3 separate regions of the Homo sapiens genome follow, and all the other regions are linked to region 2. Evidence: fine-mapped expression QTL. A gene starts in region 2. Each other region holds a variant in brackets. All regions are shown on one strand. Distances are from middle to middle.

Region 1 (10,873 bases), 440 kb before region 2:
ATGTAGGGAGGTAAGGTAAGGGGAAGAATGCCAATCAGGACACCAAAACCACTACATTTACAAACCTTATTGCAGTTTTGAGGTGCTGAGAAGGTTTTCTGGGTACATTTCCTTAATCAAATAAATAGAGTGAAATTTAAAATAAAGGTTGATCTATAAGTGTGTAAAGAGTCAAGGAATATATCATACTTGCACTCCTTGAAAAAACATACCAAGGACCAGCTAAGATATTTGCCATCTATAATCAATCAGTTTGATGAATGTCATTTATATAATTCTGGTAAGAAGATATTTTGATAGTTATTCTGCAGTTTCATCTGCTGAGAATATTTGAGGTTCTCTAAATGGTTTTAGTCCTATAAAAATGAGCAAGGTGGATGAGTAAGAGGGGAATAGAGTAGGTTGATCACTTATGTAAGATTATGAGGATCCAAATATAAATTTCTAGTGGTTTCCCATTATGGAAATAACAATTTCATTGAAATGTGAGTCAATGACTTAACCTAGAATATTATATATAACTTACTTGACTGGTGTGAGTCTTTATACTTGCAGGATCTGACTATTTGCTGAGTCAGGGGAGAAAACAGATTTTTTTTTGGTACTATTTTTAAGATTAGATAATCAGTGACAAACTCAAAGTATATAGTGGCTTTTTTTTGCTCAGTGGAATATTTGATATTAGTATTTGATTTTTAAATACAGTACATGCCTCTCTTTCGGAACAATGTAACAACAGGATCACTTGGGAATGGATTAAAAAAAAATAGCTCTCATCCCAGCTATCTCCCAAATCTTCAGCATATCAAGGATTTCACTTTCCTTAATATGGGCTTTCAAATATGGATGGCACGACATATAGACAAAAGAGTAAGTAGAGAAACTCCTAGAAGGAAATTGGAAAAGATAAATGCTGGAATTTTTCTTACTGTTATTACCCATGTGGGAGCCATAATCCTTCTGGGAGGTGACAAAAACTCACATTTGAATGTTTTTCATTTGTAGCCCACTGATTATTTACAGACTTTTTGGGGGGGAGAAGGTTTTAAAATAAAAATGTGGTCTAAAAAAGTATTCATGGAATCAGTTCTACCATTCTGCTTCATAGGGAAACACCTAAATTGTACTATTTCATATATCAGCAAATGAAACAATTATGTATCTTATTTGGGGTTGAAGAGTTAGTTTAATGCAGACAAGCACAAGTATTTCTCAAAATGTGCATAGTTATCATTGTTGATCCTAGGAATAATGCCACATTATTAAAATTTTAGCCTTTAAAAATTACCTATACATCGCCCCCCCCCCCACTTTTTTTTTTTTTAACAAAAAAAGAGGAGGCCTGAGAGCCAGAACCTGTGGCAAGAATTAGTACCTAGGTAGAATCAAATAATATTATTCTGCTTTGACAGTATTTACTTCCACTTATTTTAGTGATTCTAGTTTTTCTCTTAGAGTAGTAGCATGTGTTTTCTTATAAACAAATGTATTCAAAGTAAAAAAAGCAATTCAATTTAAAGACAATATTGGACAATTGTAGAAGTTTTTTTGGTAAAATGAAAGTCACAAGTTTGATAGAAGAATGTCTGAAATCTGGTGCAAATTGTGGATGGTGTTAAGAAAGTGATTGAAACATTAATTGAAGTAAGGATAATAGAGAATAAATTCCTTCTATATCAGCAAACTTGATATGGCTTGGATCTGTGTCTCCGCCCAAATCTCATGTCAAATTGTAATCCCCAACGTTGGAAGTGTGGCCTGGTGGGAGGTGATTGGATCATGGAGGTGGTTTCTCACGAATGGTTTAGCACCATCCCTATAGTACTGTTCTCCTGATAAAGTTCTCATGAGATCTGGTTGTTTAAAAGTGTATAGCACCGGCCGGGCACGGTGGCTCACGCCTGTAATCCCAGCACCTTGGAAGGCCGAGGCGAGCGGATCACGAGGTCAGGAGATCGAGACCATCCTGGCTAACACGGTGAAACCCGTCTCTACTAAAAATACAAAAAAAAATTAGCTGGGCGTGGTGGCGGGCTCCTGTAGTCCCAGCTACTGGGGAGGCTGAGGCAGGAGAATGGCGTGAACTCGGGAGGCGGAGCTTGCAGTGAGCCGAGATGGCACCACTGCACTCCAGCCTGGGCGACAGAGCACGACTCCGTCTCAAAAAAAAAAAAAAAAAAAAAAAAAAAAAAAGTGTGTAGCGCCTCCCGGCTCTCTCTCTTCCTCCTGCTTCGTCCACGTAAGACGTGCCTGCTGCTTCTCCTACACCTTCCGCCATGATTGTAGTTTACTGAGTCCTCCCTGAAGCTGAAGCTGCCAAGTTTCCTATACAGCCTGCAGAACTATCAATCAATTAAACCTCTTTTCTTTATAAATTACCCAGTCTCAGGTATTTCTTTATAGCAATGTGAGAATGAACTAATACAAAACTAAAGTGAAGAGTTGTGACTTATTCTTCAAACGATACCTTGAACACTCAATATTCTATGTATTTTTGTGCAGGTGTGTGTGTGTGTGTGTGTGTGTGTGTGTGTGCATTGGCTCCTAGTACTGGGCGGTTGCCTCATTTCTCCAGTTTCTTTGTGACCGACGGTGTCCTCTGCCTTATAGTAACTAAGCAGTAGAAAGTGTAAGCTAGTATATTTTACTGGGGAGATGAGCATAAACACCTTCAGAGCACATACGCAAAACCCATGAGCAGAGTCAGAGTGAGTGTCGATAAAGTGCATGAAGGAACGATTTGCAATGGAAGGAAGAACCCCCTCTTTTCCTATCTTAGAAAGGACTTTGGTACAGAGTGTAAGCTTTCATTGCTTGCTAGTTCCATTTAAAAGGCCCATATGTTTTTGGAATCTGAAACTCAAGAGTAAGGTCAAACGACATGCCATAATTAGGATGCTCATCTTTAGGAATGGAGAAGGATTTGTGTAAGTTTCGAAAAGCATTATGAATGATGAAACAACCACAAGCCTGTTAAGTTGGTTGTTACTGTAACCTTTGGACCAAGCAATTCATAACAGCCCTAGTTCAGAACCATAGCAAAATTCAGAATTATTCAAGCTCTCTACATAACAGGAACTCAGCTTGCTCCAATGATAAACAGACACATATGAAGGAAAATTCCACTGACCCTGTATTCACCTCCGCCTCAGAGGCCTAATTGCTTAAGAAGTAGTGTCAAAACAAAACATATACCTTCAGTCTCTGCAGTTTGGAAGAGCAAGGAGGTGAATGTTTTGCTTTTAAGTAAACCAGAGTATGGTTAAGGTTAAACTGTTGCAGAATGATGAGCCAAATATTGTAATGATTTACAAAGATGAATTAATATTCTTCTATATGCAGAAAACTTAAACATAAGTTGGGGGGGCAACAAATATCATTGTCTTTGTTTATCCTTAACAGTGGTTAAAAGAATCACTTCAATGGTAGTGAGATTGTGATATTGATATAAACAGAGAGAATGATTAGATAGATAAATATAGATAGTGATATAGATAGTGATATATATTGACTAGATAGAAGATAGATAGATAGACAGATGGTGGAAATGTAGAAAAGCAAACTCTTATACTTTTTTAAGGAGATTTAACAAGATATATCAAAACTTAAATTACAGATGTTTTATAACCCAATTTTCTCACTTGCAGAAATTTACTTTGTAGTACTTAATCAAGTATAGAACAATGATGTTCATTAGAGTATTGTTTATAATAACAAAAAATAAATTGGAACAACTGGATATCTATTAATATCAAGACTGGAAAAACAAGCTATGGTATAGCCATGTTCTTGAATAGTATTTAATTCTAAAAACAAACAAAAAACATTAAATATATACACAAGCACATGGGAAAAGTCCATAATATATTCCATATTGCTAACCAAGTTACAACTATGTTTAATAAATAAGCAAATAAAATATGCATTTACTCATATACATACCTATATGTCTATGTATTTATTACTATATAATGTTTATATTTTATAAATATCATCTGAAAT[C/A]ACGTGAAGTGTTATTTTCCAAACAATTAGCATCATTGAGGGGCCACTCTCCAGTGACTTCCTGGGAACTGCAGTCTACAGGAATGCAATAGAATTATTTGTAGCTCCTGGGAGATACTCCTGTGAACTCCTGAACAGAACTGGATAAGACTTTGACAGAGGTTAGAAATTCTACATTAGCAAAGGAGGGGGGAAAATATCCATGATTGGGGGTTGCTCCAATGTAACTATATACATTGTACAAACCCAAAGAAATGTGAGTTACAATTTCATTTTTAAAATTTTTCATTTGGTTTTTTGATACCAGAGACAGATGAAAGAAGTATATGAACAGCCCTGTACAAAAGTGAAATTTGAAGGGATACATTTACCCACAGGACACTCAAATGTTAAGACTCATGCTGATAACTGGCATTTGCATCAAGCATGATGATTTTCAAAATATGTTCACATAATAGCATCTTGCTCACAGTCAAATGTCTTGACATTAAATAATACATCCACTTCGCTAGTGTTATACCATGTTAATGCATCAATTATGAATGAAAAATTATATACAAAGGAAGAGATAAATATATATTTAATAATTTTGTCTTTGTAGTATATTAAAACAAGTTAACCAAAACAGTCTACTGCATTATGGGTTAAGATCAGAAAGGAATGCTTTCATCATATGTTAAGATTTTAAAGAGAACTAAATGAAGCAGTGTGAGGTTTCTGACAAATATGACTCTGAAAAATGCAAAACATGGTGACACAAAAGCCCTCTGAGAAAAAGCACATTTTTATCTTTCAAATGTCCATAGGTCTGAATCAATACTATCTTTTCAAGAATGAAAACAAGCGTCTGTAAGTAGGAGCTAAAAAGTAAGTACACATGGACGTAAAGATGGAAATAATAGATACTGGGGACTCCAAAAGCGGGGAGGGATGGAGGCGAGTGAGGGTTGAAAAATTAACTATGAGGTACAATGTTCACTATTTGGGTAGTGGGTACACTAATAACCCAGTCCCCACAGTATGCAATATACCCATGTAACAAATATGCACATGTACTCCCTCGATCTAAAAATTAAATTAGGCCAGGCATGATGGCTCATGCCTGTAATCCCAGCACTTTGGGAGGTCGAGACGGGCGGGTCACCTGAGGTCAGGAGTTTGAGACCAGCCTGGCCAACAAGTTGAAACCTCGTCTCTACTAAAAATACAAAAAAATAGCTGGGCGTGGTGGCGAGCACCTGTAGTCCCAGCTACTCAGGAGGCTGTGGCAGGAGAATCACTTGAACCTAGGAGGCGGAGGTTACAGTGAGCCAAGATCACACCACTGCATTCCAGTCTGGGCAACAGAGCTTGACTCTGTCTCAAATAATAATAATAATAATAATAATAATATTTTTTTAATAAAAAGGAATAAAAGCAAGTGTCATTCCAAATATGAGCCAGGAATTTTTCTGGATTGATGGGGTTAACTGTACCTTATAGAGTATGACCTTTATGCTGAGAAAATGGTAAATGAAGATCCAATAGTGTTTTTGAATTAATTTTTCATGTTTGAGTCAGATATCTGAAAACAGAAGACCTGATAAAGGAGGAAGTGGAAGGAAAGAGGAAGAGGAAAATAGGTGGGAGGTTGTTTTCAAGAATATCAAAGAACCATTTCAATGCCTATTGCAAATGTTTATTTCAAATTGAAAGTGACATAGAGAGGAAGTTTTTAAAGAATTCAGGGGAAAGAAGTGATTCAACCCATGAGTTTCCTTTGTCTACCAAATAGAATGTTTTTCTTTTTTTTGCATACAATGTTATTTTAGGAATTCTATTTCCTTTTTTAAAAACAGGAATGAAAGCAATACAATTTAGAAACTACTGACTTCTTAGTCCATAGATATTCTCTTTAGGGGAAAGAATGCTCTGTAACCAATATCCATTAAATATTTGTTACTTAAGGAAAACAGCAGTAATAACAACAAAAAAAGGAAAAACAATTGTCAATTTTAGTAGAATGCTTTCAGCAAAATGATCCTTTTCACCAAAACAGTTGATGATTTAAGTATATTCTATAACTAAACGAAGTATTTGTTCTAACCAATAATCAGAATTGAAGAAAGAAAATAAAATTAATAGAAATTTTACTCAAGCAGTTGACACAATAGTTTTATTTAGATGACCTGGTAATCTTGGTTCACCGTAATAAGAACGTGTTTTACTCTAGACAGAATTAGAGAGTGAACAGTAAAAAAAATCCTCAGAGGCAGGTGTGGTTCAAAGTGGCTGAGTCTTACAGTAATTTTCTGGAGGGTGTATATTTTGCAGAATAGTAGTAAAACAGTGTATTAAATATTATTCCTAATAGCCCTTTGGTGCTTAGAAATAGTTTCTCTAAATAGAAAATTTCTGATAATTTCCCTGTAAAAGAACTTGATCTAGCTCTCTATGATTCTATAATGTATTGCTAATGTGACTTTATTTTCAAATATGAAAACAGAGTGAGGGATATCCTTACAGCCACTTGCATTGAAAAACAAACAATATATGATCTCACTGATATGAAATCTAAAAAAGTCAATCTCATAGAAACAGATAGTTGAAAGGTGGTTACCAGAGGCTTGTTGGGAGAGGGAAGGATGGAAAAAAGAGATGTTGATCAAAGAGCACAAAGTCTCAGTTAGGCTGAAGATATAAATTTTAGTGGTCTATTGCACCTCAGGGTATCACAGTTAATAATAATGTATTATATATTCCAAAATTGCTAACAGAATAGATTTTTAACATTCTCATCACAAAAAAATGGTAAGTTGCTAAAATAATGTATATGTTAATTAGCTTGATGGAATCTTTCTATAATGTATACATAGATTATGACATTACATTGTACCCCACAAATATATACAATTATAATTTGTCCATTAAAAATAAATTACTTTTTAAAAATTGATTTTTAATTTTTGATCATTGATATTTTATTGATTCACTGATGGTCTGCTACATAATCCAAAATGCAATTGCCATGCCTTCTAAGAATTTGTATTGAGGGAATCATTTTTGTTTCAATCTCATTCAACATCTTTCATTTAAATACAGAGTAATAACAGAATCTTTTTCTTTCTTTTTTGTTTGTTTGTTTCAGATAAAATAGGGAATTATTGAAGTTGGCAAATATGATGACTGGCTTGTAAAGTGAATACACAGTTTGTCTAGAGTGCCTGGGACCTGAAACTCTCTAGTATACCTTTTCAATACCACTAATTAATGAAGAAAATGTTTCACAGATTTGTCTACATCTAAGAAAAATGCTCACAAGGCTTATAAATATCACCATACATTTCTATCATTACTTTATCAACTAATTCTCTTAAGCAAGCTCTCAAAGAGTAGCTATTGGCTTTTATAAAAGGGCTAGGTGTAAGGAAGGTGGAGATAAAAGACATAGTCTATGGTCTCAAGGAACACACAGACCAGACTGATCTGTAGCATATAATACAACATAGTGAGATGCAATATAGTGCAACAGGTAGTCTGACAGAGACATGACTGAGATATAATCAGTGCCCAGGACAGGAGCCCTTAACCCTGATGTTAGAAGTAGAAAATTCTACTTTTATTTTATTTTTCTGAGACAGTCTTTCTCTGTCACTCAGGCTGGAGTGCAGTGGCACAACTTGGCTCACTGCAACCTCCTCCTCCCAGGTTCAAGCGATTCCCCTGCCTCAACCTCCCAAGTATCTGGGATTACAGGCACCCACCACCATGCTGAGCTATTTTTTGTATTTTTAGTAGAGATGCGGTTTCCCCATGTTGGCCAGGCTGGTCTTGAACTCTTGACTTCACGTGATCCATCAGCCTTGGCCTCCCGAGTGCTGGGATTACAGGCATGAGCCACCACGCCAGGCCAGAAGTAGAAAATCATCTAGAGAAGGTTGTATTGCTTGTTTTTCTTTCAGTGAAATCTGAGCTCAATCCTGAAGATGAAATTGAAGAAAGCCAAGTAGACAAAGTGGAGATGATGTTCTTTAAGGCCTAGAAGTATGAAACTATAGGATATATCCAGGGAATTAGAAATAATTTTATTTTTAGAGAGAACATATGTAGAAACTACAACAGGTGAAACTATATTGATAGCAAAAGCCAGATTATGAAGGGCCATGTATGCTGAGCTAAGGACACTATTCTATCCTTAAAATCATGGAGAGCTATCAAAGGATTCTAGGGGGAAAACATTCACAGACGTGTACTTTGGGTAATGCACTATGACAGGCGTGGGCAGTATAGTACAAAAGCGTGTGATGAACAGCAAGAAAAGTAGTTAGGGGGCTTGTTGCAATAAACTAGATTTAACATAGACTAGCAACATTGGGAAAAGAGCAGGGGATAGATCAAGGTATTTATGGAGGCTAGGCAATAAGACTCAATAATGAACTAGAGATTGAGGGAAAACTGAGCAAAAAGAAATATTGTAACCAGATTTCTCTACTGGGAGACTGGAAGTGAGTGCTATTGCTTTGCATTCTTGAAATCATACTATTTTTGCCTTTAAAGCTACTCCTTCATCGATTTGTTCCTTTAATATCACATTCCTCTTGCCCTCATTAATGAACAACCGGAAGGATGACGTGCCATGAACTACTGTACTCCATTCCAGCTAAATATATACTATAACCAAGACTTCCCTTGTTCTTCCATTAAGGACCTTTAATTTACCTGTCATTCTTAAGTACAATAAAGAGTTTTTACTGTGAGAAAGCTCCATCAGTGACCAATTAGGTTTTATGGACCCATCACACTAATAAGATTTATTAAAGCATAATAATTGGTATAATAGAACATTAAAATATGAAAATATGTTGTGTCTTTTTGGGGAAATTCCAAAAAAACAAATATAGAGTTAACTGACTAAACTTTTTCTTCTTTATTCAGAAAACCTAAAATCTAGGACATGTTTCATATGAATTGGACATGTATCTCTGACATACTTTATAAATATTCACTATTTTACACACATATTAGTTCTCTAAGGCTATGTATCAAGAAAAATTATTCTGCTTGGTGCAAATACAAATAGGCAATATTTTCTCAATAGAACGTCACCTAATTTTTGTATTAAATTATTGTCTCCAACAGTTTCCTACTGTGTATGTTATACTGTGAAATTATATTTTTTATGTAGAATATTAGCTTAGTTTGTTAGGATATGCTTATTGTAATAGAGCTTGCTAATTTCCCACATTATCTATTCCCTGCTATTTCCTTTTGTACATAAACTCCCTGCATGGTCATCCAGCTATATTCCCTGTTACCTAGCATTGCTTTCAGCTATCTGAATCTTACGACTAAGTCATTTCAAATGGGATATAAATGGAAATAAAGATAACTTTCAGGTCTTGTCCTTAAGAATTATTAGACTCGGTCACCTCTTTTCCTCTTCCTTTTCCCATCGGTCAACAAAAGACAATAATACATCTCTGAAATACATGTAAAAGGAAAATGTTTTACAAAAGAACTGGTCAGAGTGAAGGGGCAGAGGAACAAGGGAACAGACAGATAAACCATAGCAAAATTAGTCCTGGACTAAAAAAATAATGATGATCCACATGAATGGTTCTTGTTCCCTTTCCCCTTCCCCTTCCCTCAAATTCTTACTAACTTTCAAGTTTAACAAGTAGGAATGAGTATATGGAAGATAGACTATGAAAACAATATTCTAACTGGAGCTTATGACTCCTTACTACACTGATAATGACTTATAGAGTTACCATAAGGTAACCACCCAACCTCATATGATTGATGAACCACTACGTATGTATTTATAAAAAAAACACTGAATCAATATGCCTTTCTCACATTGTAAGGAAACCTGCATACAGGGACACAGCTGGTAAGTGGCTTGGTCATTTGGAATTTCCATTCTGGAAAAAAGAAATTCTCACTCATTTGCACTTCTTGCCTCAAACCAACTAGATTTGGATTTTACACCTTAGACTATGACATCTTACTTCTAAAAACTAAAATGTAAATGTTTGGGTGGCATTACTCATCAGCTCATTTAAAAATGCATTTGAACTCATATTTATAGCATCATGCACATATAAATATCATGAAGCAAGAATAAACACTGTGCCTTAAAGTGTTTTATTCCAAGAGTCTGTGGAAACCTTTAGAAGTGGGCAATAGAAATATCACACTGCCTGATTTAATTTATGATCTACCCCTTAAGGAGTGGGCAGACCAGAAAAATTTGTGCATTTCTTGAGAAGTCAACTTCATCTGGGAACAGGACAAGGTGTGAAACTGAGAGTAAAGTCTCAAAGTAATGTGGTTAACAGTGGAATGTGAATTAGTGTAATTTAGGTTATTTTTCCCTCCGTTCACACAGCTTGCAGAGCTACCAAAAAACTCGTAATAGAATTCCCTCCAAAAATAAAGTTGATCTTCAATTCTTGGCATTTCAGAGTTGATTCCCATGATTCCAAGATGTTATATGGGTTGCAAATGCCAACAGTAGTTTTACAATAAGAGCCTAGGGACCCAGCAGAGGTTGAACTAAACTCCTAACAATTTAAACCTTGATATGTTCAGCATTTCTGCCAAACTTGAATAGAAGTATATGCCTTGAGAGATTAATGTTGACTTTAACTGTAACGACAACAAAAAACTGTAGTTGAATACAATTAAGTAACACATGGACAGTGTACTATTTACAAAGTAAAATGAGTTAAGACATCTAGATCATTTATCACAAGTTTTACTTAGATTTTTTTAATCTCATAAAGAATATGACTATTTTCTTAAAGAAAGAAGCAATGGATTTTTTTTAAATAAACTTACTTAAAGACATACCTATCAATTTGCAAATAAATATGCTAAAAGGCCCAAA
Region 2 (10,873 bases):
TGCATGACAATTTCAGTTGTCTTATATTCAAAACACTTTGGTTTAAAATCAGAATATTGTTACTTCAGATTAGAAGTTTTAGAAATAAATCTATTTGAAAGTATTTTCATATCAGCATTAACAAAATACTATATACTGTTTTGCACTTCCACATTTGAAGGTGCCAAAGAAGAGTTGCAAACTGTGAAGTAACTTCTATGAAGAGATGAAGTAAAGAACGGAAGGCAAATGATTGTGGCAGTAAAGAAGTGTATGTGGTGAGTGCTCACATTTGTTTTTATCATTTACCACAGAGTTACCATAAAGGTAAAACTGCCAAACTCCTTGGCCTTAGGTATTTACAGAATAGACGTGTATAACAATAATAAAGAGTTAAATGACCACCATACACTTTATATTATAAGCAATGACATATCATTTTGCTTAAAGATCATGTCATCTTTCAGGGCCTACTTTTGCAAGTACTGTATCTTATAAAATTAATCTATTTCATGGGAAGTCCTGTGTATCATCAATACTATAATTAGACAAAGATTAAAATATGTAATGCTATTGGAATTTGTGTTTCACTGCTTTTTAGATTTTTCTAAACCACCATGTTCACTTATCATGTTTGTGTTAAAAGTATTCTGGCTGAGGAACAAATACTATACAGTTGAATAATCTTAAGGGGTACATTAATCTATAGCCTTTCTTCATCTCAGGGTGGGTTGCTGTGGCAACCGCCCCAGTTCACTTTAAAATAATTTTTAAAGCTCACTTCAAGAGCTACACCCAGCGTGGGCCAGGCTTAAAAGCAGGCAGACCCAGTGCACAGGGCTTTAGTGGACCGCTGCTTTAATGTAGGGAAGTAGTGAAGAGAGGAGGTTGGAGTAAGATGGTATGCAGCTCTGAACAGAAATTGCAATATTAGCTTTCCCTGGAGTTAAAATCCCGAGGAGCATGCTCTCTGTAACTTCTATGACACTTTAATTAAATATATTGCTAAACATAATTCTTTTGAGGGAAAAACAAGTGACTCTATATTTACATTAACAATAAAGCATTTACAACTTAATGTAGGAGAAATATTTGGTGATTAGAAAAAAATAAAAGCTGGTACAGTAGTACATCAATCCCAGACATAATTTTCTTTTAAAGGAATTGTCACCTATTATTTAACTGGATAGACCCTACCTTCCAATTGGTTTAAAGGGTAGAAACATTTTCTGTTTTCCAATGATAGAACTGGAATAGGTTACAGAACTCATTTAACACATAAGCGAACTGAAGCCTAGAAAGGACAAATCCCTTAGTAAGGCACAAATTTTGAACTAGATAGAGAATCCAGGTCTCCTGACACCTAGTACAAGCTCCTCCCTACATGAGAAAATAGTCTGATCCTAACCAAGTATCATTAGATGGCAAGGATCAGGATGATTTTAAAGAAAAAACAAAAACAGAAACAGAAACCAAAAGTCCAGAAGTATTTAAAGAATACAAAGCACACTCTGGATTAACTACTTTGTGGATTACTCATGAATAATTTTAAATCTCAGGTGATTTTCTAATGTATATTTCTTCATATCTCTTCTGCTTCAACTGTAAAGGCTCATGGGAAGAAAACTAATGGTAATATTAACTTAGGTCACACATAATTAAGAAGCTAAATCTGCTGAGGGGAAAATCCTGTATTTTAAAAGGCCAACTGTGATACATTCCAGATCCAAATTATTTTCAAATTATCCAGTGTGGGGTTATACTTATTTTTGAATGCTTGCAGTATCATTAATAATTATGGGTTTGTTATAATGGGTATTATTAAATAATTATTTAAAATATGAAAAGGTAAAATAAAATAATTTCTTTTTGAAAGAACATCTAAAACTGAAGTGTACTGTGGTAAACAGAAATACCCTCTATAATTCATTAAAAACAGCAGGGCTGAAATTCATGTATTGGCTATGTGTTTGCTCATGTCAAATAGACTGTTGTAACTCACTGCATTAATTTTAGGTATTATGGCAATAAACTTAGATGGTCCTTCAAATGCTTTGCTTTTTCAGGACCTTCGTGAATCTTGAAGAAAATTAATTTTATTTTTACCACCATATATAGACATATCTTAGTATTCGAAATATCTTTGCCCTTTAAATTTTTGGATTTTCAGAGAAGTTGTACTTTGAATGGAAACCTGATACAGATGTTCTCTGCCATATTATTAAAATGAATTCATGGTAATGGCAAACTCAACATTTGAAAAACCGGCAAACAAAATACATTGTAAATACTAATCTGCAAGAAATACTACTATTTCAGATGGTTTTTGCTTTGTGACAGTTTGTGATGCATTCCTATAATAAAAGGGAGGGAATGGTCTTAGTTTTGCTGATAGTCACAATGATGAGCTGGAACTTGAAGATTGTTCAGATCTAGTTGTACTTGCCTATAAAATAAACCTTCCCCTTTCAAGTGAAGCCTTGGGACAGTTGCCTAAATGTTGAGGCCACTCTTCTGAGAGAAGCTACTCACATCAAATACCTCCTACATTGAAGCAGGAGGCTTTTTGAACCATACTGTCCTCATATATTAAAATAGTCATCTGGAGGCATATTGCTGAACTTAACAGGAAATACAACTAGTCATTGGGTTAAACGTAGTGCTAAAAGGAATTTTCTAAAGTGAGGAAATCTTTAGTTAGCTAGATATTTCAATATACTATTGTCTAATCTCATATATTCCATGTTCTATTAATTTTCCCTTCTTGCTTTCACAATATTTTTTAAAAAATAGTTTGGTTTAAACATTTTATGTAATCTATAATTCTACTGGCATGCAATCTTGTCTTTTCATGATTCTATACTAGTTGATGTATTTTATCTTTGGCTTTATTGGGCATGGTATATATTAACAGTTGGTTAGGGCGGGAGGTGCCCAATCTCTAGTAGCCTAAATATTAAAGCCTTTTTTTTTTTTTTTTGTAAGGAAAAGTGTTTATCATGCTTTAACCTTAACATAAGTATCCTCCCTTATCAGTCTCTATTTCTGCTTCCTGTGCAGCTGAAACTCTTCAGGATAAGTGAAGTCATCAGCTATCGGCTAGGGTAGCCTAATGCATTTGGGAAGTTGGTTTGGTTTACATGTTAATGACCTGGATGAAGTCCAGTAAGGTGTGGAAAAGATAGAGTGGGGGGAGGGGGGGAACTCCGAGGAAGCTGCTTCCTCGGTAAATATTTCCAAACTGATTAGAAAGTTCATGGCCCCGCGATGAAGTCGAGATCTCAAATACTGGTAATTATTTTATTATTTCGTACATTACTAACATTAGAGAAACCTTTCGGCTCGCTTTCTAGCGCTCCAACCTCTCAGGGTGAAAACCGCGACTTCTGGGCGTGCAGGAAAAGCACGCTGGAATCGAGTGCTGCAGACATCCTGGACCGTGGTTTTTACGCGTGAGTAACGGAGGAGCGCACCGACCGGTGGAAGAGAGAAGTGGCTAACGCGTGTCCAAAAGGGGGAAAAGTCACAAGAGCAACTATTAGGGTCGCGCTCCTATTGGTCAGAGGAAAGATCCCGACTTTAGAAGGACTTTCCTGCTGGCTGGCTCGCAGCGTCCCCGGAGAGCAAGCGAGCGCGCCGCAGCGGGAGACTAGGTTCTCTCCGAGCGTCCTCCGCAGAGGCGCCGCGAGAGGAGCAGGGAGCCGCAGCTCGCCGTGTTGTCTTCATTTCGTGCAATAAAGAATTGTCATTAGGTTTGCGTATGGCATGTGCTATTACCCCACCGTAAAACTAAAATTAGCAAAATGTCAGGAATGGAAAGATTGATTCACCAAGATGCAATTATCATTTAAAAGTGCTTGATTGAGGTACTGATGTTCAGTGATTTATTCTGCATACCATATACATAATTAAAGTAGTGTAGTGGAGTAATTTATCAATCTAGTTGAGACTGGAGGGGTGAGGAGGGAGCTGCTGTATGTTTGTTTTATTAAAATGCTCCGAGGTCTAGTCCCGCCCCCCTTTTGCAAGAGTGAAACTGATGATTTCTCCAGCTCGCGAGGAAAGAGTCAACGGTTTGGGATTGTGGGGGAGAGAGAGACGGAGAGAAAAAGGCAGCGCGAAGCAAAGGCAAGGACAAAATTAAATAAAGGGGGAAAAAAGGAGGCAAAAGACATTTCATCGGACGTGCTGCTTAGAACCCCAACCATTCGTGCTCCGTCTTCCCTACCACCCCCGCCTCCCCTCCCAGTATCCTTCAATCCCCCCCGCCCCCACCACCCCCAGTCTTTTTTACGCGATGTTTCAAACGCTGTGAGCTGTTCTCCTTTTCCCATTCGTCTTCTGTCACTTCCTTCCTGGACGCAGTTTTCTGGACGAGTCTGGTTACTTTTAATCCGACCGGCCGCTGAGAGCCACTTTCTCCTCCTCCTCCTCCTCCTCCTTCTCTTCCTCCTCCTTCTTCCTCCTCCTCCTCCTCTTCCGAGCGGCCTCGGCGCGCGCGAATGCGCGGCCCCGCGCCCCCCCCCTCGCGCGCGCTCCCCTCGCGCGCGCGCACACACGCACACATCGTCTCCAGCTCTCTGCTCGCTCTGCTCGCAGTCACAGACACTTGAGCACACGCGTACACCCAGACATCTTCGGGCTGCTATTGGATTGACTTTGAAGGTTCTGTGTGGGTCGCCGTGGCTGCATGTTTGAATCAGGTGGAGAAGCACTTCAACGCTGGACGAAGTAAAGATTATTGTTGTTATTTTTTTTTTCTCTCTCTCTCTCTCTTAAGAAAGGAAAATATCCCAAGGACTAATCTGATCGGGTCTTCCTTCATGTAAGTACCCCTGATATTTCTCGAGGAAATAGAAAACCCGGGTATTGTCTCTAAAATCTGCATCAATATATTCCACGGCACTGTGTCTATCTATCCCTGTGCCTTTTTTGAAGGCTGAAGTTGAGGCTCGTTGTGCATTCTTTTTCGTTAGATTCCATGATTTCCTTGTTTGTTGCTAAAAGTAACTTTTTAGATAGTCGTATCCGTTTGCCATCAGCTATTGAAATCACTCCTGACTCGTTCCTGTCACACCAGTGTATTTAAAGTTTCATGAAGTTAGTTCACGTCATTAGCATGTTTGATATGGTGGAGCGTGTGGAGCCTGGTGGATTTTAATATTTCACAGCATGTTCTGTGACCTTGAAGTAGACGCCTTAAGATTTAGCAGTTAGTTCACTGTGGAAAGATGCTCCCATGAGTCCCCCCAAAGACACTGATTTGCCCTGGGTTATGCTTCTGAGCCACTAATTCTTGGGATTAGTTTGACCTAAAGCATGGCTGTCTGTCAGAGTATACCTTTGTGCATTTCCTTCCCTCACCAAAGTGCCGGCTTGACAGAGGGCTTCTTAATTGGTGTGGACAAAAAGTAATATCCCTGCCATAGTAGTCTACACATTTCACAATTCACGTTCGATTTCAGCATATGGATTGCTGTTCAGGTCAAGTCAAATACATAGCTGTTTAAAAGCAAGCAAGGTTAAGTCACTTAAATTGCCTTCTCTTTGGACTTGGAATGAAAGTTACCAAACTCGATGATAAAGTTTGTCACAAAGGAAGTATATATAGATGTGGCACATTGTTTATTTTATTATTAAATATTGTGGAAGTATTTAAATTTAATGCTAATGTTACCTTCCTTCCCTGAACATGGCTATTGCTTTTTAAAGGAAATTTTATATCTGAATCACTTCTGACTATTCTAAGTCCAGTAGTTATCATTCTTTGGGGAGAGCCTTTTTTTGTCACATTTTAGGAATGCGTGTCTTTTGTATAAAATACTTTATATGTAAATGCTGACAGTAGACTAAGTAGAATTGGGCTCTCTGCCAGTTCCTTAACCGGTCCTCAGTGGAGAATTGCTTTGACACAAAGTGCGTTTTACTATTGTGAATCTGAAACTAACTCTAATAGTAACTGTCTTATGAAATGCTTGGGGACTGCATATAATTTCTAAGTGCTATAAAGGAAACTCCAGCCACCTCATTATACCAGTCCAAAAAAAAAAAAAGCGACTAGCCTACTTTCACTGGCACCTTGCAATGGAATTGTGGTTGCAGAGTAAAGATGTTTATGTGGAGTATAATAACTCCAATCCCTAGAGACTTGGTAGGACATGGAAATGTGACCACCTGTGAACCCCGTTTAACCTCGTATTGCATACCAATTTTAGCTTTAAATAGATCAACAATCTCTAATTTGAAACTAAAACATCTTATTTAATTTTAAAAAATGTCAGTTTTGGCTAGTCTTTAAAAACATTCAGCATGTACCAATATGGTATAAGCAGTATTTTTGTTTCTCCATCAGTTTCAACTAAAGATAATGCAGTTAAAAAGCCATATTATTGTCTTCCAGTGTATGCATGAAATTAAGTTAAAAGAAGTAGTTCTAAAGCAAGACTCAGAACTTGATAGGTAAAATGAGATGTCCCTATCTAACATCCTATTTCAAGAGGAAAGAAATATTTTAAATCAAATATCTCATTCTATTTGTAGAAAAGTACATTTAGCTATGTATTCTGCTACTAACTCAATTCTAAAAGTTTTCATCAAAACAGTCTTTAAACATAACATTTGCTTAAAATTTGGTTCTCCCGTCAAAGAGACAGTAGGTGGCTGTTACCTTTACTTCAAATTTTACTAAATTTTATAAAAACCTACTATTTTTATTAATATAATTCACACAGCATTCGAATGTTTGACTTTTTTTCAGACTTCTTAGGAAAGGCAGCATTTTACTTCATTCATTAATTGCACCATTTACGTCCTGATTGCTGTGCATGTGGAATATATTGAAAGATAATATTAAAGTGTAAGTTTTATTAAATGTTAATTTGTTTTTTATTTCAATAACAAATGAGCAATTTATAATAAAAACAGTTTTCCACCTTTTCTGAGCTATTCATATTTTAAAAGTGTGCAATCACAGATATTAACTTTTCAAGAGAGAAGCACATTAATACTAGATAACTCCATGAAACTTAGATAACAAGAGGCACTTTGCCTCTTTTCTTCTTTGTAAACATGTTCATTTTGAAAAATTTGGGGGAAAAGATACCTGAAATTTTTTCCTTGGCCCTAACTTAACGGAATCAATAAATTCCATAACACTGCAAACGTATCTTTCTAATAAATACTTTATTTAAACTTCTTTTATAAAGAACAGCACTGAATAACTCCTTAGCATATCTTAACATTATCTTTTAAAACTTTCTTCTGTTTATTGTAGTATATTTTGTGGTTTTATTTCTCAACTCTAAAGTGTGGTATAATTTGAGTCTATGAAATCTCAGAAAGTGACAAAAATGGGGAAATAGCTGTGCAGCAATACTTGTGCTACATAACAACAAAGACATAGTTATTAAACAGAATTCTGGCTTTGGGGACATGATTCGAAGCAACATAGAAGAATTTAATATGCAATTAATGGTCACAAGATGAACTGTTAAGAGATTATTAATAAAGTTACACTTTTTTTTCAAAAGCACATCCTCTGAGAAAATACCACACAAATTAATATCTAAAACTTATCAAAATACACGTATTCATTCTATACTAATGTGGTGATTGCCTAGACACGATGAAATGATTTAATCACTGTTGTTCCATCAGTATGCTGCATGTGGAAAGACAGGTAATTAAGATCCCCGTCCTTAGCACTGTACCTTAATCTTATAGGCGCGTGGACTGTCTTGCACTCAGTAAAGCTTGACTGTTCACCGAGATCTGTCACCTTTAGGAAATCAAACCAGATTACAGAGGTGATTCACAAAACCAGGAACAACAGAGTCTATGCACGTTACAAAAGGCAGATTACATAGTTCACATGTTATTTTGATAGGTCAAAGATAAAAGCTGATTGTTGAGGAATGGCAAGACACTCAATTTCAAATGATTGCTTAGATAAGCATACTTTGACCCTGTTGCTTCATCATTATGATCCATTCAAACAATGGAAAATTCAGTTTTCAAATGACAGGCTTTCAGTAGTGAAGTAAGAGAAAACATGTCCTTTTTTATGTATGTCTTCATTGTGTAAATTTTAAGTTCCATCATTTCTTTATGAACAAACATTAAATTGTCTGCTTACATGAAGCAGGTATTGTAAGGCTTAAATGCATTAGACATTTTCAGAGGCGTTATAAAGAGCACAAAACAGAATTTGCCAGAAATAAAACATACACTCATGTTATTGAGTAATTCAGCAGAAAATGCATAATAGTCAATATCCATTATGTTATTCTGTTACCAAATATATTCTACATAAAAATGTGTAATTACATAGTTATGAATCCATATATGTGAAACATATCTTCATAAAAGTTCATTGGTCAAATTTTATATATATATATAATATATATATTTCATGAATGTTATATAAAGATCATTCTTTACAACAGAATATGATGTTTTGAGAGTTTATTTCAGAGAATAAAGTTTTGGTTTACATAATAACATTTTGAAAATCTTAACTTCTTACACACCCAACTTTACAGTAATTTTTTGCTTCTTCTAAAATTGAAGTCCTTTTTTACCCAACTGATGCCTCCTAGTGTTTCACACAATAAAACACTAATGAGTCACCCATAAATGTAAACATTGCATTTTCATTGCCTACATCATCTGTGATACATAAAATTAATATTTATGTGTTTAATTTTCTGTGCACTATTATAATAAGATAGAAAATTTTAGTGAATGAGATGTTTCATCTGAGTGGATTTGTGGCACGCACTTGCAGGTTTTCTTTGACCATCACAATATCTTACTAAGTTTTAACAAGTTTATTACCTTCAGTTGCAGTTATATATTCACTCTTTATATTCACTCTTATTTCAAGTGAGAAACATAGGTAAATAACAAAGCTTTCATTTTGTAGGCCTGGGAATTATACAGTTGGGTTCATTCTGAAATGCCTGATAAATTGCACAAGGACTATCCATTTCATTTACACACTAAAATATCTTAAAAGAGATATAATTTTTTTTCCTGCTGTGTCTTTACACTTGAAAATTTCTTTGTAAAAGTGGAATAAAGAAAGACTATTTAGAAAAGATAAAATCAAAGATAAATGCAAAATTTTCTATAAATATGGAGTATATTTATTAGAAAATAACAACAAAAGAAAAACTTTCCTTGGAAGGAAACATATTATTCTACATAAAGGGAAGTCGTGTTAGAACACAATATCCAATGACCAGCAGCTTGCCTTAATGAGGTAGAAGTTAGTGGGTGCCAACTTTGGTGTGAGTTTTCTGCCATTAGGATGGTAAGCGTAGACCTGTGATATTTTTGCATGTTTGTGATTTCAAACAGCTCTCTGATTCTACTTCCTAAGTTTCTAAATGTTTTTTATCCAATATACTTATGAAAGAAAGGGGTCATTCCTGTAATGGGTCTTAAATTGAAAGGAGGCCATCAAAAACTTGTAACATTCATGGGCCTCTTCCTGAGGTGTCATACAACATACCTGTACACAAAAACATTCATGAGTTTCTTCTACTAACACAAACATTCTATAGCATCCAAGTGTAGACACTAGATTGAACTTCATTCTGTATATGTGTCATTTAGTTCTCCTGACTCAAAATACACAGTGTATTAACAATATTTGACTATCACTTAAGATTTTCTAATTTAGTCAATAATACAGTGCTATTACAATTGTTGGACACATTTCAAAGAATGTAAGGGGGTGTGTTCCTTTCGTTCAAGGAAGCAAACATGTAGAAAGGGGTGGACCTTTCCCACAAGAGCCACATTTCTTCCCTTGGAGAATTGAAGCAAATATGCAGTACGTAAGTGAATAGCAGCATGAGAAAGAAAATAATTTGCAATGATCTCCTATAGTTAGTGAGCAAAGAAAATTGTCAGTTTTTTTTAAAGTAGCTCTTATTGACAACCTATCTTAAACTGAATACTGAAAAAAAGTCTATGAAAGTTTTATAATTTCAGTATGTTTTAACATTCATGCGTGAAATAACTGTAAAGTACACTGTAATAATTTTGGTCTTGCTCAAATCAAGAATTTTTTAGTAACCATGTTATTTTACAGACAATATTGAGGCATAACAAAATAAAGGGTGCTGGAAGCATTCATTCCTTACCCCTCTCTTTTAAGAATACGAAGATGGCATTGATGTTCTTTTGTTATTTTTGTCTGTGAAAGAAAAATAATTAAAGAATGTTCTATGACAAAGAATACCATTGTAAAAATAAGATTATAGAAAAGGTTATTTAATATACTATTATCTCACATCTCCTTGATACTATTTTAATGTTTACTGCAAAAAATCATATTCCTATTAAATATGGAAATTAGGTGATACATGTTATACAAATTTATGGTTTAGTTTTAGGTGATATGAGTAACATTTATTTGTCATCGCCATAATTCATTTGCTGTACATTGTCATTTTATTGTACAAGTTAAATCTTGGTATATATTTTTAAAATACAGCCAATGTAAACAAAGTTCAAAGTACATGAAGAGAATCTTTTGAGGGCATTGAAAAGGAAATTGACGACATTACAAGCAATAAAAACAGTAAACATATTACAGGCAGATTTCTTCAGGAATCATTACTCTTAAATAATGCAGACATTATAAAGACTTTATTAATTCTTAATGCTGTAAATTTGAAATGAATGGAGCAATGTTGTTCCTCCTGCAAGTGGTTGGGATTCATGTAGAATGACAGTGCAAGTCCTCAAGCAGTGATTTAAATTAAGTACCCAAAACTTGTTTTTAGAGGCTGGAGGAACTAACTGATCTTTGAATCAGTCCCTTTTGAGAACCTGCTTTTTCCAAATAGCATCATGAGCGTGGTGGTCTGGTTTTCCTCTTCTA
Region 3 (10,873 bases), 420 kb before region 2:
TGCTGCTTAGGTAAATGCGAGCTTTCAAATTTAAGGTGCTGCTATTGTTACTTAGATGTGTTCTTCTTACTTGAGAGTTATATTTCCTGTGGCTTGGGTGTTTTCTGATAATACTAGTACATTCTGAGGGCCCCTCGCACAAATTGGAGGGAACGTCTTCTAGCCAAGCCTGACAAGGCTCATGGCTTTCCAAATGAAGGTCAGAGAGAGTACAGCATTTTGTCATGCAACTCTCCCCAGAAGGTTCAATGGAGCCGACCACTGTGACCACTGCTGTCACTGCTCAGTGATTGACAGTTACATTGCTCAATTCTGTACTCTCATTCCATTTTGTTGTAGTGAAAAATGCAGGTGATTTTGTGTCCTACAGACTTGGACTCTAAGTCTGTTTTAGCCATTTTGGTTACAAACTCATTTAATATAATAATTTTTAATTTAGAAATCTAGGCTTCATCAATTCTACCAGAGATAGTGATTTAATTGTGCAAACTTGAATTGTTATTCATTGTTTTTATACTGTTAATTGACAAATAAAAGTTGTATGTTTGTGATGTAAAATATGATGTTTTTGAGATATATATATATATCTCAAATCAATCTATTTACCTTACATACTTTTTTTGTGTGTGTGGTGAGAACCATTAAAACCTTCTCTCTTAGCAATTTTTTAATATGCAATATGATATGTAAAATAAATCTCTTAAACTTATTTATCCTTTGTAACTGAAATTTTGTTTCCTTTGGCCAATATCTTCCCAATCTCCTATCCCCTACTCCCCAGCCTCTGGTAACCACTGTTTTACTCCCTATTTCTGTGAAATCTTATCATTTGCAACAACATGGATGAACTGGAGGACATTATGTTAAATGAAGTAAGCCAGGCACAAAAAGACAAATACTACATGATTCCATTTATACATGGAACACAAAACAGTTTAACTGAATTTTTGACAACTACTAAAATGGACATTCAGGCAGTTATATGAAGTCAGAAGTAGAACCACGTACTAATCTTCCTTCCCTGTTATCCACCTTAATTATTAATAACATTTTTCCAACATACCACTTTGGTAGTAGATTTGATGATTCCATTCATTTATTTAAAAATATAAATGGGTGCCTATTATGTTCCAAGCAATGTGGTAGGCTCTGAGGACTCACAAGTAATATACACACAGATTTATCCTCAAGTGGTTTATTGTCTAGGGACAGAGAAAGGAACATATACTTTTTTTGAGAATGTTTTTGTCCAGACTTTGAGAAGATATTTATTAGGCAGTCAATGAACCCTTAAAACAATATAGGTTAACACCTATAAAGCAGAGGATGCTATAAAGCAGAGGATGTGGAGAAATAGGAATGCTTTGACACTGTTGGTGGGAGTGCAAATTAGTTCAATCATTGTGGGAGACAGTGTGGCAATTCCTCAAGGATCTAGAACCAGAAATACCATTTGACCCAGCAATCCCATTACAGAGTATATACCCAAAGGATTATAAATCATTCTACTATAAAGACACATGCACACATAGGTTTATTGCAGCACTATTCACAATAGCAATGACTTGGAACCAACCTAAATGCCCATCAATGATACACTGGATAAAGAAAATGTGGCACACATACACCATGGAATACAATGCAGCCATGAAAAAGGATGAGTTCATGTCCTTTGCAGGGACATGGAGGAAGCTGGAAACCATCATTCTCAACAAACTAACAGAGGAACAGAAAACCAAACACCGCGTGTTCTCACTTATTAAGTGGGAGTTGAACAATGAGAACACATGGACATAGGGAGGGGAACATCACACACCAGGGCCTGTTGGAGGGTGGGTGGCTAGGGGAGGGATAGTATTAGGAGAAATACCTAATGTAGATGACGGGTTGATGGGTGCAGCAAGCCACAGTGGCATGTGTATACATATGTAACAAACCTACACATTCTGCAATGTATCCCAGAACTTAAAGTATTATATATATATTTCCTGATAACAGAATCTCACAAATCAATTTTCTAAATATTATTCATCCAAACATTTTTGACAGCCATTAGCCAAACTTCTAATGCTTCATTTATTTACTCCCAGAAATTCCCACAAATTTAATGCATCAGTTTCTAGACAGTTGTTTCTGGACTTTTTATGTTCTCATTGAAATATAGAGAGGAAAAATGGTACTAGAATGAAGAGTCAAATATTACAAGATATCATGTGTCTGGTCATAATCCCTTTTAATTTTCTAAGAATGCAAACCTGGGACTCCTTTTTTGGAAACAAAAATTCCTATTCAGAACTGAAATTGTTCTGACAAGACTCAAGCTAGCTCAGGCAAAGGAGTTACTTCCTCCATGAGATGAAAAATAAAATGAAGCTAGACCTATGCTCTAACAATATACCTTCTGGTACTTATTCCTCTGGCACTTTTGTCCACACCCAGAGACTGAAGTTATTGCACCCAAAGGGAGTATTTTTATCTTTAATTATTTATCTGTAATTGATTATCTTCTAATTAATGAGTTTAATTTAAAGTAATTATAAAATACTCTTCTTTTTCCTAATTTACAAAGAATTAGAGCTGAGGATATTAAATGGTTTCAGGGTACAGGCAGGAAGTGACTTTATTGTTCCCTAGCCATTGCCTTTTAATATTCTATGACAGATCTGCTTTCTGTGCTATTTGACAATAATTTGGGCATATCTTAGATTTCCAATCACTTTCAGTTGTTAGAACACACGATAAGTCAATGATGATGAGAGAGAGAGATAAAGAGAGCAAGAGAGAGAGGAGGCTGGATATTTAAAAATTCAGTCTCTATTAAACACAGGTGTCAATATCATATCTAATTCATGGCTCTTTTCCTTACTCCCATAAGAACTAGTTTTCCTGCAAAGATAATGAATTTTAAGCTTCAGAACTCTGAACTTGGAGGGCCTCTTACAAACCCTGTACCTAATGATGCATTTGTATGTTTTGTGTTCTGCTTTTGAAAGAGCATTCTCCAAATTTCATAAGGCCCTACAAAAACTGGATTCATCTGTCCCAGAAATTTAGGCCTGATCAGTGGACAGAAGGACATGTGGCAGGTGTGGAGGAACTAATCTACTCTCTGACTCCTCCTCCTCCCGCAATCATTTCTACCCCTCACTCCTTGAGAGTTAAAGCAGAAGTGGACTTAGAAGAAAGAAGCAATTGTTTCTTCACTTAACAACAACTGTTGGTAGTTAACTCTTGACTTTAGATACCCTCTCCAAGACAAACACCTAAATGCTGACTTTCTCTTGAAGTAGAATTTCTTGATATGGGCAGTGGTCTCCCTAGATGACCTCAGATGACTACTCACAAATCACTCCTCCCTTGGTTCCTCGTCCTTGATGTTCACACTATATTTATTTGTAGTTCACACTACAAATGTACTATTTGTACATTTAGAAAAATGTATAAATAGTATAGTTTAATCATTGGAAAAAATCATTTATTGAACATTTTCTCTGCATGAGGTTCTACGTGAGATATTTTTCTCACATTATTTCTCAATAGCAATTTAAAACATTACTTGTGGTTAATACACAAAAAAGTCCACACATGCACAAATCTTTAAACAAGTAGCAAATAGCACACTTAATGTATCAATTGTAGGTGCAAAGAGCAGAACGAGACAAGTATGTATCCATATTGTTTGGGGATTTCACAAAGTATAGCTTTAGAAAATTTGGACAGCACAGTGAATTTCCAATATTCCAGACAACTCATTCTGTGTGATAATGAAGATAAGAGATTCATTTGAAGTTCATCTATTGCCAAATAACTTATCCAGAAATTTTGTTGAGAACCTAGCCAGTAAATTAGACATGGAACCTTGAAGTATTGTTAACTCAGTTCAAATAATTGTATCAGGAGCACTGTCTATGTGACTCAACATTCTGTCTCTAGGTTTATACTCTTTGTGGCATGGCATATAGTAGGTACTCATTAAATATTTGTTGATGAAATGAATGAATAAACAAAGGATATCTTCCCCCAACCTATTATTCATCACACAATGCAAACCTGAGACTATATCAGTAAACAGAGAGAAACCTTATCTTAATCTGCCAAGTATGCTTTTTCTTTCTTGCCAAACTTGCCATACACAAGGGTTACATATACATTTCATCTCATTCTCAGCTTCCTCTGAGGTTTATGACTCCATGCAGCAGCCATGTTTCTCTCCACATGCACTAGTAGAATTCCTGGAAAACATGCCAGAGCAAAGAAAATGCTTTCATTCTGCTATCTGTTAAGGAATGAATTTTTTTCAAACATAAAGGAACCTCCCCATAATTATCTGTTTCTCTATTCTTCTGTCGTATGGTTTATCCCAACGCAGGTAAATCAACAATAATTTCATTAAAAGTCTAAAAATCTTAATAGTTGTTCCTTTCTTTGGAAATTAAATTCTTAGAGAATGTAATGAAGCAAGATAAACAAAAAATTTTCATTAGATTGAAATCTTTGATACTGCAATGTGTCCTGGATATATCTGTAGCCTGTTCTTTATTTTTTAACATATTATAAGAATCATAGTTCTTTTTAAAGGGAAACTTTTGAAAATATATCGCTAGTACCATATATGTAATATTTATGACATAATGCTTTACATTATAAAATGAATGTTATGTTGATATTATCATCAATATATAAACACAATTGGAAAAACAAGAAAACAAGGAAGATTCTCTTCATATTTGCAGCTTGCCATTTGTTGAATATTAAAGTTAAATTGCCAGCCCTTTATAGACTTCTCTTTTCTCTTCATAAGTTGACAAGTTTGCCCAAAACAAGACACATTATTACCACGGTGATTCTATGGCAGTGACTTTCCAGAGTTACTGCTCAGGACTTACTGCCTGAATTGATGATAGGAAGCCCTAAATTCTTCTCCTCCTCTCATGATCTTTGCAGCCTTCACCACCCCACGAAGGTGCAGATTACAATCCCAGATGCTGGCCATTTGTGTATATTCCATTGTATTTTAATTTTATAAGCATCATGGCTAGTAGAAATTTCCTATAGAATTATATTCGTAGCCAGAAATGAAAAATGACCACTTTTTTTGGCCTTTCACTTCATTGGAGCTGCACTTAAACTATTACCTATTTAATTCAAGTGTAAAAACAAAACCCACTAAATATTCAAGGTGAAAGTCTGGAGTATGTTTTAGGATGTCTTTTAACCTCAATTAAATTTCTAAATGTATTAATTCTCCATTTCACTTAGCATTTGTTAGGTGAGAAAGGGGGGCCCCAAAAGAGTTTTATAATGATTAGGGCAAGAAGCATATATTGACAAGGAGAGGCTGTGTGATGAAATTTGCCATCCTCAGTGAATACAATGACAGCACCGTGGGCTTAATACATTTTCTAAAATTTTAAACTATGGTGTAATGTTCTTTTTTTGAAAATATACAAGAGTGATGTAAATTGTGTTATTAGTAAACCACTTAGGATTGTGTTTTTAAGGCTTTTTATATTTGAACCCACAAGTAGTTTGCCAGGGAACGGTGCCCTTAATCACTCTCCGTAGCTAAGCAAACACATTAAGCTGACTTTCTAATTGGCATGAGCCGGATTTCCCTCACCATGATGAGTGTGATTTTGAAACCAAGAAACTTTAGGTTTGTCCTTTAAGAAAAGTGATTTACAGGAGAAGGTTGTGGGAGGGAAAAAGGAACTCTATTTTACCCCAAAAAGAGACAACATCCTTGCCCGAGGTAGCATTGTGACATTGCCAATGCAACAGGGTTGTGAAATACTGAGTTTTTGTTTTTGTGGTGATGTCTGAAAGTACTGGTTACTGCACCAATGTCTTGTT[A/G]TCATGCATCTCTAGTTCTGGATCTACTTCCTTATAATTGCTAATGAAAACAGAGTGATGAGCAGAGCAGTGGCTAGATCTTCAGTTCAATTCTTCTGTTGTTTGTATTAATAGATGACATCTTCTGAAAATTTCTTAATAATTATATTTGGCATTTAAGAAACAAAATACAATTGTCTTTTCCTATATTTTTAAGTCTATTTAAATTTTTGACTTACAAGCTAACTTATCTTTATTTCTCTAATCCTAGGCATCCACTAAAAACAGTCTCTATTAGTGTATATTTTGCAAGTAATCAAAATCACAGTAACTGAGGAAAATTAGGACAAGCCTAATAGTAGCCAAGCTCTAAATAGGCTTTAAAATAAAAATAGGATATGTGACTCAGAATACAGTACTAGTTCTTCATCTTACAGATGTTCTCAGCCATCGGAGTCAGCGTGGGCTATGACACTGGTAAGTGTGGGTGAAATGGGTAAAATTTTGGAGAGAATGATAGGCTTTTTTTTCAGACTATCTTCCAATTACCTCATATTACTTTATGTTTTACAGAATGTACAGAAAACTTTGCCTACTCATTTCTTATTTGCCTTAATAGCAAGCTTTAAGTGAGCCTTAAATTAGTAATAGAATTGCCTCCCTCTTCTAATGGCATTTTAGGTTTATACAAAACCCATCTCAGGAAACAAGTGTCTGGCTTTAGTTACTTATCAGCTGAGTGGCTACCTCATTAAACAAAATTCACTAATGATTTCTGTCATGACACGCCATTCATTGGGCCAACAAGATAGAAAAGACAGCATCTCTGACCACGGAAGGGACATGACAGAAATGCTGTCATGATATTTATATTCCACCTACTCGAAAGACCAATTGAGAAACTCCATATGGACTCCAGTTTGCCACTAGCCCACAGAATTGAAGTTTCTTAGCTGGCTTAAATTAAGAATTTTGGGTAAGTGTAAAACTTTGCATATATTTATTTTCATAAATCTAGGCAGTTTATTTTCATGTAGTTCTTTTCATCCTACCCAATTCTCTTTTAGTTGACACAATAGGCAAAGGAAATACATTCTTAGAAAGCTTGTAAGAAGAGAGGGCCAGGTATAATAGGAGAAAGTAAAAGAACATTGCTTGATAGCTCTAATCTAAGGTGTATTAGTTAGGAAAAGGTATGTACACCTAGTTTAGAACAATAAGAAAAAGAAGGTAGCCTCCATTGAGGTAGATTGGCTGATTTGAATTATCTGAAACCCCTTCCTCTCACTTCTCAACATTGGCCAAATGGCAGGTGGTACAAGTCCAGTTCCCCAGTAAGTTCCTGTAAACAAAACTACTTATTTATAGACAGCTTCTCAGTACTGTTTTTCAGGAGCTCAGTCAGAACGCAACTCAGAGCCACATCAACTGCAAAGAAAAATAAAGATATAAAATCCTGTTTTGAAAAATTTGCTTTACAACTCGAATGAGGTCCGCCATGTATTTGGGGGGATCTTCAGCATCATGGCTTGAGAACAGGTTTAAAGAAACATAGAAATAAGCCCCATGAACTCCTGCATTGGAGCAAAAAGAAAATACGGCTGACATCATGGAAAACTGCCAGCAGAGTTAAGCAAAATTTGAAATATCTACTTCTCCTTTCTATTCTTTCTTCTTTCTTCTTTCTATAGGGCATTCATTGGAATCAGCTTCGATGGAGGAATAACTGAACCACTGTGTATACAGACAGATCATAAAGCGGTGAACTGGGCTATTGAAATACTGAAGCTTTCCCAAAAAACTTTTGCCATATTTATTTATATAATGCAAAGTAAAATAGTAATATCTTTCTTTCAAAAAATACATGTCAATGTGCTTTAATTTATTCTCATAATTCTCCATATGAAATTTGCAGATATGTGAAGATTAACTCAGCATATATTTCAAAAGGTAAAATCTTCAGTAGTTTTAATCTAGGCTTATGTTACATATAGAAAATAGTAGGAAGAGGTATAGTTGCTTATAAGGATGAAAAATATGGCAGCTTTTAGTATAATCTCTTCTTACATTCTAAAGCACTACATGTATTCACCAACAGCTAAATGAAATCACTTTACACATTCACCAATTTTTATTCAGCAACTATTAAATTCAAGACATCTTGTCTGTTCTGAATATAACTGCAAAGGTACATAAATATAACCTTATTCTTCAGAAACAAAATTTCACCAAAGAGAAAAAGTGTAAGCTTATTTGCAGCAAAGATATATTTGCTACTTGCTGGCCCACATGAGGCACCTATTACATATTTACTGAATGAGTGTATAAACCATAAAATCAAGTAATTTAAATATAACATATGATATAAGCCACAAATGTGATTAATTCCTATGGGATTTAGAGCAAGGGGCATCACTGTTAGCTGAATGATCAGTGAAGAACTCACGGAGTTGAATGAGCTGATAAAGATTTTAGTCAGGCAATAGTTCAAAATAGGGCATTGTTTGGTAGGCAGAAATAAAAGAGGAAGTCTCAGGCAGAGAGAACAAAAAGAACAAGACCATATAAGGGTAGGGTATAAATACAGGATGGGAATAAGGGAGATCCAGGAGATCAATTCTATTTGAGTAGGTGGAGCAGTAATGGGAGAAAATGGATTGGAGCCAGATAACAAAGGCCTCGGCTATTACACTGAGGACCTCACACCTTATTCTGAAGACCAGTGTTTTCCATGTCTCCTAGAGTGCTCTTCTATTGCTAAATTGCTTGAGCACTCACCACCATAAGTGTATAGTTATATATCAGAATTTTGTAAAGTATACACATTATATTGTCCATCTATATCTATCCTTTATGTATATACACAGAGATGTACATACATGAACACATATTACAAGTAGACATTTTTAAGTGTCGACTAAGTGTGACACATCTACCATAATTTTTAACCACATATGATAAATGTATTTAGTTATTTTTGTACATATTTGCTTACTACATGTCATCTGTATTCCCTGCTGAATTGTCATCCTTATAAGAGAAGGAAACATTTTCTTGTTCTTTCTATATTGCAAGTGCCTAGTGCAGAATCTGGCACAGAGTAGGTGCTTATTAAATATTTGTTTGATGAAGAAATAAGTTGAACGGTTGACTGATCAAATTTGTTTTGAGGTGAGAATAAACTAATCTGGAGCCATCAAACATTCTTCATATTTCCCACTAGAGACTCTCTATATATCACGTATTATAAACATTAACCTTCAGTCTTGAAACTATCAATGACAGACTCCATATTAAAGAAAAGATGGGAGAAACAAGGCTGTCCCATCTTGAGTATAACACTAAAATGTTCCCTTTTCTTTAACAGCTTTATTAACATATTATTAATATACAATACATTACACACATTCAATGTGTACAATTTGATGATGGATATAGTCATACACCTGTGAAACCATCACCAGAAATCAAAGTAATAGATATGTCCATCACCTCCAAAAGTTTCCTTATGTCCTTTTATTTGTTATTTTTGGTGAGTGTATCTGTGTGTGTGTGTGTGTGTGTGTGTGTGTGTGTGTGTGTGTGTTTAGAATACTTAAGGAAACTGTCTTAATATAGTTCCCATTTCTACAAACTAAAGACATAGCATTTCTTTCCACAGATGTATTTAAAAAGGAATATAAAATTCCATTTATAATTTCTTCATATAAAACGAAGTATCTCAAAATGAGTTTCCTGGAGTCCAGGGGTTCCCAATAGGATCTTTAGAGGCTTTTCTAGGATAAGGGCTAGAAAAATGTGTTTGAGGAGAGTGACTACAGACTGCTATTTCAACTAGCCATCTCCAGTTTTCTTCTTTAATAGAGATACTTTTTATAGGATACTGTTTGGAAAAAAAAGAGCTCAGACAATTAACACAATGTTTTTTAAAACCAATAATATAAAGGTGTTTAAATCCTGTAGAAATACAATAGAGCTAATTAATAACTGTGTGAAATCTAAAATGAATTTTAGTCATTTTTGTCATATTGGTTTGTTTATATATTGGCACACCTACTCCTCAATCTATGGTATTGCTGCTGAAACTACAGTAAAAAGAAATAAAACTACTACTGTAATTAAAGATGCTTTTATCCCTAAAAGTTGTTGGTGATTATTCTTTTTTGTCTTCCCAAATCCATCTCCTCCCCTTTACTACTTATCAACTGGTCTCCCTTGTTAGTTGGCGTCTGGTCAAGGTCAACCAATGGGACGCATTGGAGGGAGATGAGACCATGGGAAGAGAAGAAAGCCATAGCTTATTTTCCAGTTCCTACCTGCATTCACACTGTATGTCTAGCAGTAGCTTCATCTGCCTCTTGGTTTCCTTTTCCACAGTTCTAGTAGTCACTGGACTCTAGTAACACTTTTTCCTTCTGTTCAGGTCCTAGCAGGTTAACAACTTTCCACTGTTGCTATTCTCTGGATCTTCACTATTTCTTTGTTTGCTCCTTTGCTCCTCTCACACCTCTGTAATTAATTTCTTGTCTCTTTATTTGAGCCATCTGGTGAATGATGTTTCCTACCATTTTCTTGGCTGATACAAAGTTAAAGCCTATTAAAACATCTAAAACTAAAATACAGAAAATTAAAATACTGGTCATTAAAATTTTTACCGTTGATTCAACCTTGTTTACCATGTCTCCAATATATCATACTGTACATTCTTTTTGCCAAAAACAATAACTACTCTATATTCTTAGAGACTATTAGCAAATTAAAACTAAAGAAAAAGTTCATATAATGTTATGTAAAAGAATGTCCAGAAAAATTATTACTTCATTGTAAATAAATATTCAGAACTCTCCATTCTGCACTTGCATGCAAGCTAGAAGGTGACAAGACCACATAACTCACCTCACAAAGCCAGAGAAGACTAAAGAAATATCCTCAAAAAAGTTCAAAGAGTAAATTTATATATGTGCACATGTTCACTTAACTACAAAAAAAGCAGAATATGTTATTATCCGAGGCCCAAGAGACTAGTCAATGACTAGTAGCA

What was found.
Region 1: its variant is fine-mapped to the expression of MEF2C in whole blood (INTERVAL, PIP 0.99).
Region 3: its variant is fine-mapped to the expression of MEF2C in whole blood (TOPMed, PIP above 0.99).

Annotation. Positions count from the first base shown.
Region 1 is chr5:89,319,984-89,330,856 of GRCh38, reverse strand. The region is part of intron 7 of MEF2C-AS1 (MEF2C antisense RNA 1); the gene reads right to left. Among named protein-coding and RNA genes, the nearest start is that of LINC02161, 260 kb to the left of the region's middle. The variant C/A (reference allele first, on the strand shown) is at 4,003.
Region 2 is chr5:88,876,886-88,887,758 of GRCh38, reverse strand. It overlaps MEF2C (myocyte enhancer factor 2C), which reads left to right and starts at 4,575. Exons shown (of 11, transcript NM_002397.5): 1 at 4,575-4,804. MEF2C-AS1 (MEF2C antisense RNA 1) reads right to left here and starts at 4,429. Exons shown (of 10, transcript NR_136219.1): 1 at 4,274-4,429. RefSeq lists an enhancer at 3,468-3,517.
Region 3 is chr5:89,298,109-89,308,981 of GRCh38, reverse strand. All of the region lies in intron 7 of MEF2C-AS1 (MEF2C antisense RNA 1), which reads right to left. Among named protein-coding and RNA genes, the nearest start is that of LINC02161, 280 kb to the left of the region's middle. The variant A/G (reference allele first, on the strand shown) is at 5,854.